Linked DNA regions of Homo sapiens: region 1 is linked to region 2. The links come from fine-mapping of genetic effects on gene expression. Tissue or cell type: caudate. Region 2 holds a variant in brackets; the other region holds the start of a gene. All regions are shown on one strand. Distances are between the middles of the regions.

The links. PIP is the estimated chance that this variant, and not a neighbour inherited with it, causes the effect. A credible set is the group of variants that fine-mapping cannot tell apart.
Region 1: C2orf66 starts here. The variant in region 2 is the best candidate, but not a certain one, in a credible set for the expression of C2orf66 in caudate (GTEx, PIP 0.89).

What each region holds. Positions count from the first base shown.
Region 1 is chr2:196,807,373-196,811,676 of GRCh38, reverse strand. C2orf66 (chromosome 2 open reading frame 66) reads left to right here and starts at 2,322. Exons shown (of 3, transcript NM_213608.3): 1 at 2,322-2,463; 2 at 4,055-4,253. The coding sequence starts at 2,341. The coding sequence ends at 4,234.
Region 2 is chr2:195,909,745-195,913,744 of GRCh38, reverse strand. DNAH7 (dynein axonemal heavy chain 7) reads left to right here. Exons shown (of 65, transcript NM_018897.3): 25 at 3,550-3,718. Among named protein-coding and RNA genes, the nearest start is that of DNAH7, 160 kb to the left of the region's middle. The variant G/A (reference allele first, on the strand shown) is at 2,180.

The sequences.
Region 1 (4,304 bases), 900 kb before region 2:
CCACGAGGAAATCTCAAAGCCTCCTCTAACTCAACACATTCCAAACAGAATGATGATCTTCACTCCTCCATGCCTCGGTTTGATATCTTGGTGAATGGCACTGTAACCCACTCACCTGCATAACCCACGGACCTAGCAATTGGTTTTGAAACTCCCATCTCCTTAGCCCCCCTCCCCGTAGTACCCAGTACATTAACAATCCCTTATAAATCTCTCTCAGATCTACCCATAATCTGTGCATCTGTGCTAACATCGCCCTAATCCAAGTTAACATCTTTTCCTGCCTGGACTACTGTGTAACCACCTAACTGGCTTTGCGCAGCCCTCTTTTCTAGCTCAGTCTCTCCTCCCCACTGCAACCAGAATAACCTTTTAAAAATGCAAGTATGATCAAGCTTCTTTGATGCCTAAAACCCTTTAATCAGTTAGCATTACTTGTAGCCTAAAGATCATAATCTGACTACCTCTCCGGCCCCATCTTGCGTCAGGCATCCCACCTGCTCCCTCTACGCCTGGCATAATTTCAGTACCTTTAAAGTGCCCCATTCCTAGCACAGCTGTTCACCTTTTTAGACACACTTCTCCCTCTGTCTTCCTCAGGTTGCCTGGGTAACTCCTATTCAGTTGACTGGATGTAAGGTCATTTCTTCACAGAAGACTTCCTTGGCTCTCAGACTGAATCAAATTCCCTTTTTCTATACTTTCATAGCACTCGCTATTTCATAGAAATGATTGTTCACTTATATGTACACATTTGGTTGTACGATTTGATTAATGTTTGTCTTGCCCACTACTCTATTTTAATGAGGGCAAGGACTGTATTTATTATTCTTACCATTTCATCCTCAAATCCTGTTGCAGTACCTGGCACATAGTAGGCACTTTGTAAAAGTCTGCTGAATGAATAAACAGAGGAAATGAACAACTGAAGGGCAGAGGTCATAGTAACTTGCCCAGGGTCAAGATGGCAAGACTGAGACTATAGCCAGGTTTGCTAATTTCCAGTCGAGATCACCAGCCTTCTGAATAAATATCTTGTCCTAAATTTTGTTCTAAATCATTGGAACCAAAGCAACGTCACAACTCAAGTCCAATTTCTCGGCCTACCATTTTCTACAGATGGCATTTATTCAGCAAGGGAATGTTGTAGGTATAGTAATTTATCTTTTTTCCATGAAACATGTGTTATCTTCTTGCTCTATTTTGAAGAGATATTATGATAAATGATGCCACTATTTAAAACTTGTAAAGCTTCTTGAGGTTCTCAGAAAAAAGTACAAGGTATAGGTCAAAAAGAGTAATTTTGTCTCTCACAAAAGAATTTTCTGTTCAAAAAATGCTGTTAACTTGAAAAAGTCATATCTCCAAAAGAACGTTCTAATAGGTGGGATAATCATCATCATATTTCCAGCTATAATCCATCATATTTCCAGGTGTATCCCTTCCCTTAAAAGTAAAAAAGGAGAAAATCACTTTGCTGTGTGGAAGTGCTTTGTGTGTTTTATAAAATCCACATAAAATGTTCGTGGTTCAAGGAGTGGCTGCCGCATTTCTAAGGCAAATAAGCTTATCCCTGAAGAAGCTTGAAGATCTGACTCTCAAGAATCTTTGTGTTCTGGATGAAAAAGGAATCATTATTTTTTAACTCCCCTGCTCAAGTCAGTGACTTCCACTGGCACCCAATCCATTGGTTATAAGTACCCATGAATTGCCTTGCCAATTATAGGCAGGATAACCTAGGAGGACCAACCAAAACCAAACTCCTGGTAAGCTTTATTAGCCTTTTCTACAATGTGTCTCAGTTTCTCTTTCACACCTTGGAGTGGAAGACAATCTCTACTCACACTGTTGTGGTATGTGTCTGTCTGTCTCAGATGTGTGTATAAGGTGTATTTCTCAGCTCGGTATCTGAAGTAATTTCTTTTTCTTTTCTTTTTTTTAAAGACTGCTGTCTTAAGGCTTAAAAGTAATTTAAGGTTTTGTTTTTTGTTATTTTAAGAGTTGCAGTTTCTTTGGAGACAACAAAGTACTTTTTTTCCAAAGATGAAAAAGGCATATTCAGACTTTCTATGTTATGTTCCATAATTGTTTTGCTTATCACTGTATAACATTCTCATTATCATGGGCTACTTTAAGCTAATCAGTTGCATTTTGGGGTCCTCATTTAGAAGTCAATCTGGAAAAAAGATGGCTGTAAAACTTAGATAAACCAGTATGCTATTTCTCCTTCCTTGTCTGCCTTTACAGATGTTTCCTCTTTCTCTCTCTCTTCCCTGACTATCTCTCTCAATGATCATTGACAGCTCCCGCATCCCCTCTTTCACTCAGCTTCACTCCACCATGACCAGAGCACCTCTCCTGCTACTATGTGTTGCCCTGGTGCTGCTTGGGCATGTGAATGGAGCCACAGTAAGAAATGAGGACAAATGGAAGCCACTCAACAACCCCAGAAACAGAGATCTGGTAAGAACACACTTGGGGCCTGGGTTTCAGGATAGAACTAATGCCTCTTTGGATTTACGCACACAGCATTCTGTTTTCCAGAACGTAGTGGAAAGGGGGCTACCAAGGGTTGAGAAAATTCTCCAACAGGATTGGACCAGAGTTTTACTACCCTAGTGGTTGGCAACCTATTGTTTCTCTGGCCAGTTTACATTTGTTTCTGTAAAGAGAAACAAATTTATATTTAGAAACAATCTTATACACACATAGTACAATTCATTTGTAACTGATCTTATATACACATTGACTTTGTAGCCTTGATTTCTAATACATATAAAAAATAAAGAGTGTAACAGGGAATTGCTCGTGCATAGCTTAGATTGAACTGATGATAAAACAAGTTATCATATAACTAGAGATTGCCAAGCTCAGCTGCAAAAATTGAAAGTTGACCCTGCATGGGTATCAATTTACTGGACATATTTTCAACATATAGTTATCTATAAAATAGAATTCAAAAGATCAGTAAACATTCTCTTTAAAAAAAATGCCAAATACAATAAACATGTTGACATGACTATTTTGAAATATGGTTTTTCTAAAGTGAATGATGGGAAATATAACAACATAGGATTAAAATAAACTGAGATAAGAGACCAGCAGGATTTGTTTTCTGGTCACAGCTGCTGACGAAAACAGGATCTGGTCCAGACAGGATAAAGTGAAAACACTGGGTGAAACCAGCAGATGGCAACAAAAGTGGTCCCGACCTGCTCTCATTGCTCTTAGGATATGATCCTCCCCTCAGTGCCATGACAGTTTACAAATGTCATGGCAATTACCTGGAAGCTACCACTCCTTTCCATGGCAATGACCCAAAAGTTACCACCTCTTTCCTAGAAAGCTCTAAATAACTCCCTTCTGTTTGCATTAACCCATCCCTTAATTTGCATATATTCAAAAGTGGATAAAAACACAGTTGATAAGAGCCCATATGTTGTCAGCCCTAGGTGCACTACCTATGAATTAGCCTTGTTCTGGCAGGAGCAGTACCTTTCAATAAAAGATTGTTACCACAACCAGCCTGCCCTTAAATTCTTTTCTGGGCAAAGCCAAGAACCCTCCTGTGCTAAGCTCCAGTTTTGGGATTTGCCTGTCCTGCATCAAAGCAAGTAGCACTTCGCACATCTTCTGTGTTCATTTCCTAATGGAAATCTGAAAAGAAACTATTGCAGAAGGCAACAACAGAGATCTCATATTAAGGAAGAGGAGATACTGAGCTGCTTATTATGGAGTTCATTTTCACCTTTGACCTTAGTACTCAGAGATAGTTCACAATGAATCTTTCCACTGTGGTGCCGCTCCATAGTCTTCCTTCAATTTTCAGTAAGAATGGTGAATTATTTTGGTTAGGGTTGAAATGTCAGAAAGAAGGTACAGAGGAGGGGAGGAGAAGTAGCTGAAGCATGTACTTGTATTTCTAGATTTTGTATTTCCTGCCTCTTAGATTAGCCTTAAAGTCAATTCAGGGGAAAAATAGAGGGAAGAAAAACACCTTTATTTTTGGTGTTTCATTTATATCTGGCATTGACCATTTTCTTTCTCTCTTTAGTTTTTCAGAAGGCTTCAGGCATATTTTAAGGGCAGAGGTCTTGATCTTGGAACATTTCCAAATCCTTTCCCCACGAATGAAAATCCTAGACCTCTCTCTTTCCAGTCAGAACTTACTGCTTCTGCATCTGCAGATTATGAAGAGCAGAAAAACTCCTTTCACAATTATCTCAAAGGCTGAAAGTTTCTTCTGAGCTCAGGTAAAAGTTGGCCCTTTATTCTGGATCTGTCCAAACATACAAGTCAGCCAT
Region 2 (4,000 bases):
AGACTCCGTCTCAAAACAAAAAACCAAACAACAACAGCAACAAAAACATGTGGATGGAGATCTTATATTAGGAGATCTAATATTGAAGGATAAGGAGATTTAGCCAAATGAAAATGAAGAGGGGCTGGCTCTGTATTCTTTGACTGACTACCAAGTATAACACATTTATATTTAATGTGATTCATAAACTATTTGGACTTCTTTAAATCATCTTATTTTGTGCTTTATATTCTCCAAGTTTAACATTTTATTTTGTTTTGCTTTGTTTTTCTCATGTCCTATCTTTTATTAAGTGATTGAGTTTTCTTTATTCATTTATCTCATTTGATACGGATATAACGTGGGATATGATATGGGCTATGATATAGGATGCTGTTTCTATTCTCTTAAAGGTTATCTTACATTTAAAGAATGCCTATTTTGCTTAATAAAGCCTAAAGTTAATAAATATCTCTATTCCCTTTCTGAATAATAAAATGTCTTTAACTACTTTAACTCCAGGTTCCTATCTCTTATATTCCAAATACTAAATTAAACTTTGTTTTTAAATTTCTTTCCAGAAAATTAGTCATTTTAAGTAGTTTATTGAGTAAACCAGTTTTAGGATGCAAGCAGAAAGCAATTTTATTCTTTCTTATTACTGTTTTTTTTAAAGTTGCTCTATTAAATAAATATTTCTCATTCCTGAATGAAATCTAGGGTAGATTCCCTAGCTTTTCTGGTCACTCTAAAATATTAATTATAAGTGTCATTTTTTAAAATAATAAAAGTCCACTTACAGCTAATCAAAATTAATAATAGCTCCCATCCAATTTAAAGCTCCCTTCTCCCTCAACTCAAGCCTGACTCAGGCTGAGAGCCTGAATTTGGAAAATAGATGTGCTCAATTTTTAGCTATTTTTATCCCTGTCCTTGGTTTCATCCCTCAATAGCTTATCTTTTGCTTCCCCCAGTATTGGAGGTTGAAGGGGAGAAAACAGAAAGAAGTAGGTTTATATGTGACAAGTGTCTTGTGTGACAACTATCTCTTGGCTGTATAGTGATGTCTTGGTGATGGCACAAGCCCAGATGTGCCAGATCTTCCAAGGGATGTTTATGCGGGTTCCTTAAAGCCCTTCCAGTGACCGGATTCTCCCACCTGTGGAAAATGCCTTCTCGGGCTGGCCGCAGGTGGCTTTTGCTTCAGCCTCTGAGGCTCACCACACACAGACCCTCTTTTGGGGATTTTCTCCTGTTTCAGATGGGCCTTCTGCATAGGGTCCCATTCAGTGTGACTCAAATCTGGCTCTCGGGATCTGGACCTGGCCAGGTGATAGACATACATTTGTTTTGCCAGCAGTGGGAACACATCTCTCTGTTTCTTTTCTCCCATTCTGCCATCAGGAGAAGTTCCAGGCATCTTTTCAGCTTGAAATGTTTTCGGTTGTGAGTCAGCACTCAGTTTCTGTGCTCTAGAAAATCCAAGGGGCAGATGGTGTGTCGAGTTTTCTGAGCAGTCTCAAAGGCCCCTCTGTTAGCTTGGGAGAGGGAAAAGTGCTGCTCTTTCTTCCACCATACAGAGAGAGGTAAAAAACACAACACACCAATGATTCTTTCCAAAGAAGTCCTCACTCCTGATCACTCACTTACGGTCTTCTTATCTAACTTTTATATGCCCTGATGATAGCTAATGTTCCAAACCAACTTCACCATCTATAAGATAAGATGAGATGGTATTTATTGTTCTCAGCTTGGGGCTTTAGTCAAAATTCCAAGAAAGAACCCTATTAAATAGAGTGTTACATATTTTTTACTATTAATATACAGGTTTACCAAAAATTTTTATCATTTTCTTTACTCACCAGTGCTTCTTGCTTTGCCTTACTTTTGGTTTAATTTTCTTCCCCTTACTAGGCAATGTCTTCTAGTAATTGTTCCAGGGAGGCTCTGCAAGTAATGAGCTCTATCAGTCTTTGTCTAAAAATGCTTCTTTGTGTGTCTTTGCTCAGTTATTAAATGACAGAGTAGCTAGGTATAGAAGTGTAGATGAACAGTAGTTTTCCCTCAGCCCTTAAAACTCGTTATTCTCCTGGCATCCATGGCTACTGCTGGTAAGTCCCTGTTATTCTTATTCTTTTGTAGGTAATTTTCTTTTCTCTGTTATAGTTTTTAAGATTTCTCTTTATTGTTGATGTTCACT[G/A]TAAAGTTACTAGATGTAGATTAGTTTTTATTTATCCTATTTGGGCCTTTTTCCATTCATGTTTTTCTTGAATTCTGAAAAATTATCAGTCATTGCTGTTTAAATTTTGCTTCTTCCCCATTTTCTTCCTTCTATGTCTCTTAACTTTTCTTACATTCAGTCTCTGTATCTCTTTGAGTAATTTTCAGTGCATAATTTTCTGTTTCCTTATGTTTATTCTGCTATTTAACTTGTTCACTGAGTTTTTAAATTATATTTTTATTGCTAGAGTTTCAAATTGTCTCATTTATAAAATTGGCTTCTGTTTTTCTCTCACAATTTTTTGATGTCTATTGCTTTATATTTAAAATCTCATTTAACAGACCGCCAGGATACCATAGAGAGTAGGACGCCATTTATATAATAACACTCTTTGTCCATTGCTTTTGCCACAGCAAGGCTGACTCCTAACTCTGATCTCTCTCTCCTGTTTGAACTGTGAGCTGGTTTTAGTAGTGATTGTTTCCCCATGCAGTCTTGCATGTTGTCACCCGTGGAGGTGTCCATAAGGAGCAGTTTCATATTTATCTCTGAGGAAGACTCTAGAGTTTTTTTCTGGTTCAGAACAAAATGTTAATTTATCATTTTGGATTAATGTGCCCATGACTAGTAGAAATTTGGACCTCTTTTTCCCTGCACAAATGATACAAGCTTTTCATCAGGCCCCGCATGAAGGATAGGCTTCTTTGTCTCTTCCATAATTGACTCTTCTTTGTCTCTCTCCAGTAGGTTGCTGGAGTGATTTTAGTTTCCATTTAGAGACAAGACAGCCTTTCAAGACTTCTAGATTTATATAGGTGGATCCATTCCAGCTCCCCACATTGCTCACTTCTGAGGGTTTATTTTCTGTTTCTATCTGAGCATAAATATACTCATTTATTTATATACTGATCCCGAAACAATCTTTTAGTGTCTAATTCTCCGGCTTTGCATTCCCTCTTCGTTGGTAATTTTCTTTTCATTCTTTCAAAAATGGCCATGTATTTTAAATTATTATTTGTTTTCTTATCTGTAACATTTCCATATGCTTACAGTTGGCGAATTAGGGGATTCAAAGTCAACTGAATTCTTCATATTGGCCAGAAATCAACATTAAATTTCAAAAGTGAATTTGTTCTCAATGTGGCATATATATAGCTATTCAGAAATAAAATATAATAACAGACAAAGTAATGAACTATCAGAGATTTTCAGAGGTTACTGGGAAGGAAGAAATTATCAAAGAGGAAGCTGGAGGTTTGGTTCTCAATTTAACCTTTTTCTCTTCTTGGCATGTGAATGGAAAAAAAATCACATTATTCTACAAAGAATGTCTATTTCATATGTTTCAGAACCTTATTTGGAGCCCTTCATTTGCACCTTGGAGGAGCACCTGAGGGTCCAGCTGGCACTGGGAAGACTGAAACTACCAAGGATTTGGCAAAAGCTGTAGCCAAACAATGTGTTGTTTTCAACTGCTCTGATGGGTTGGATTATTTGGCTTTGGGAAAATTCTTTAAGGTTTGAATTAACTCCTCATTTCTTTACAACAGGATAACTGATCAGAGATGGTTATTTATGATGCAACATAATTGAATACAAGTAAAAGATTTACTGTAGCTTAAGTAAAAGTAAAAATTGAAGCACTATCTCAATAATTCTTAAAGGAAATAAGGTTATAGCAAAACCCTATTTGCAGAGAATCTCTACTTTCCTCTCCAGTCCCTACTGTAACAAGTCATTATTACTGGTTGGAATAAGTGGTGTCCCTTAAATACATTGGAGCAGATAAGAGTTTGAGAA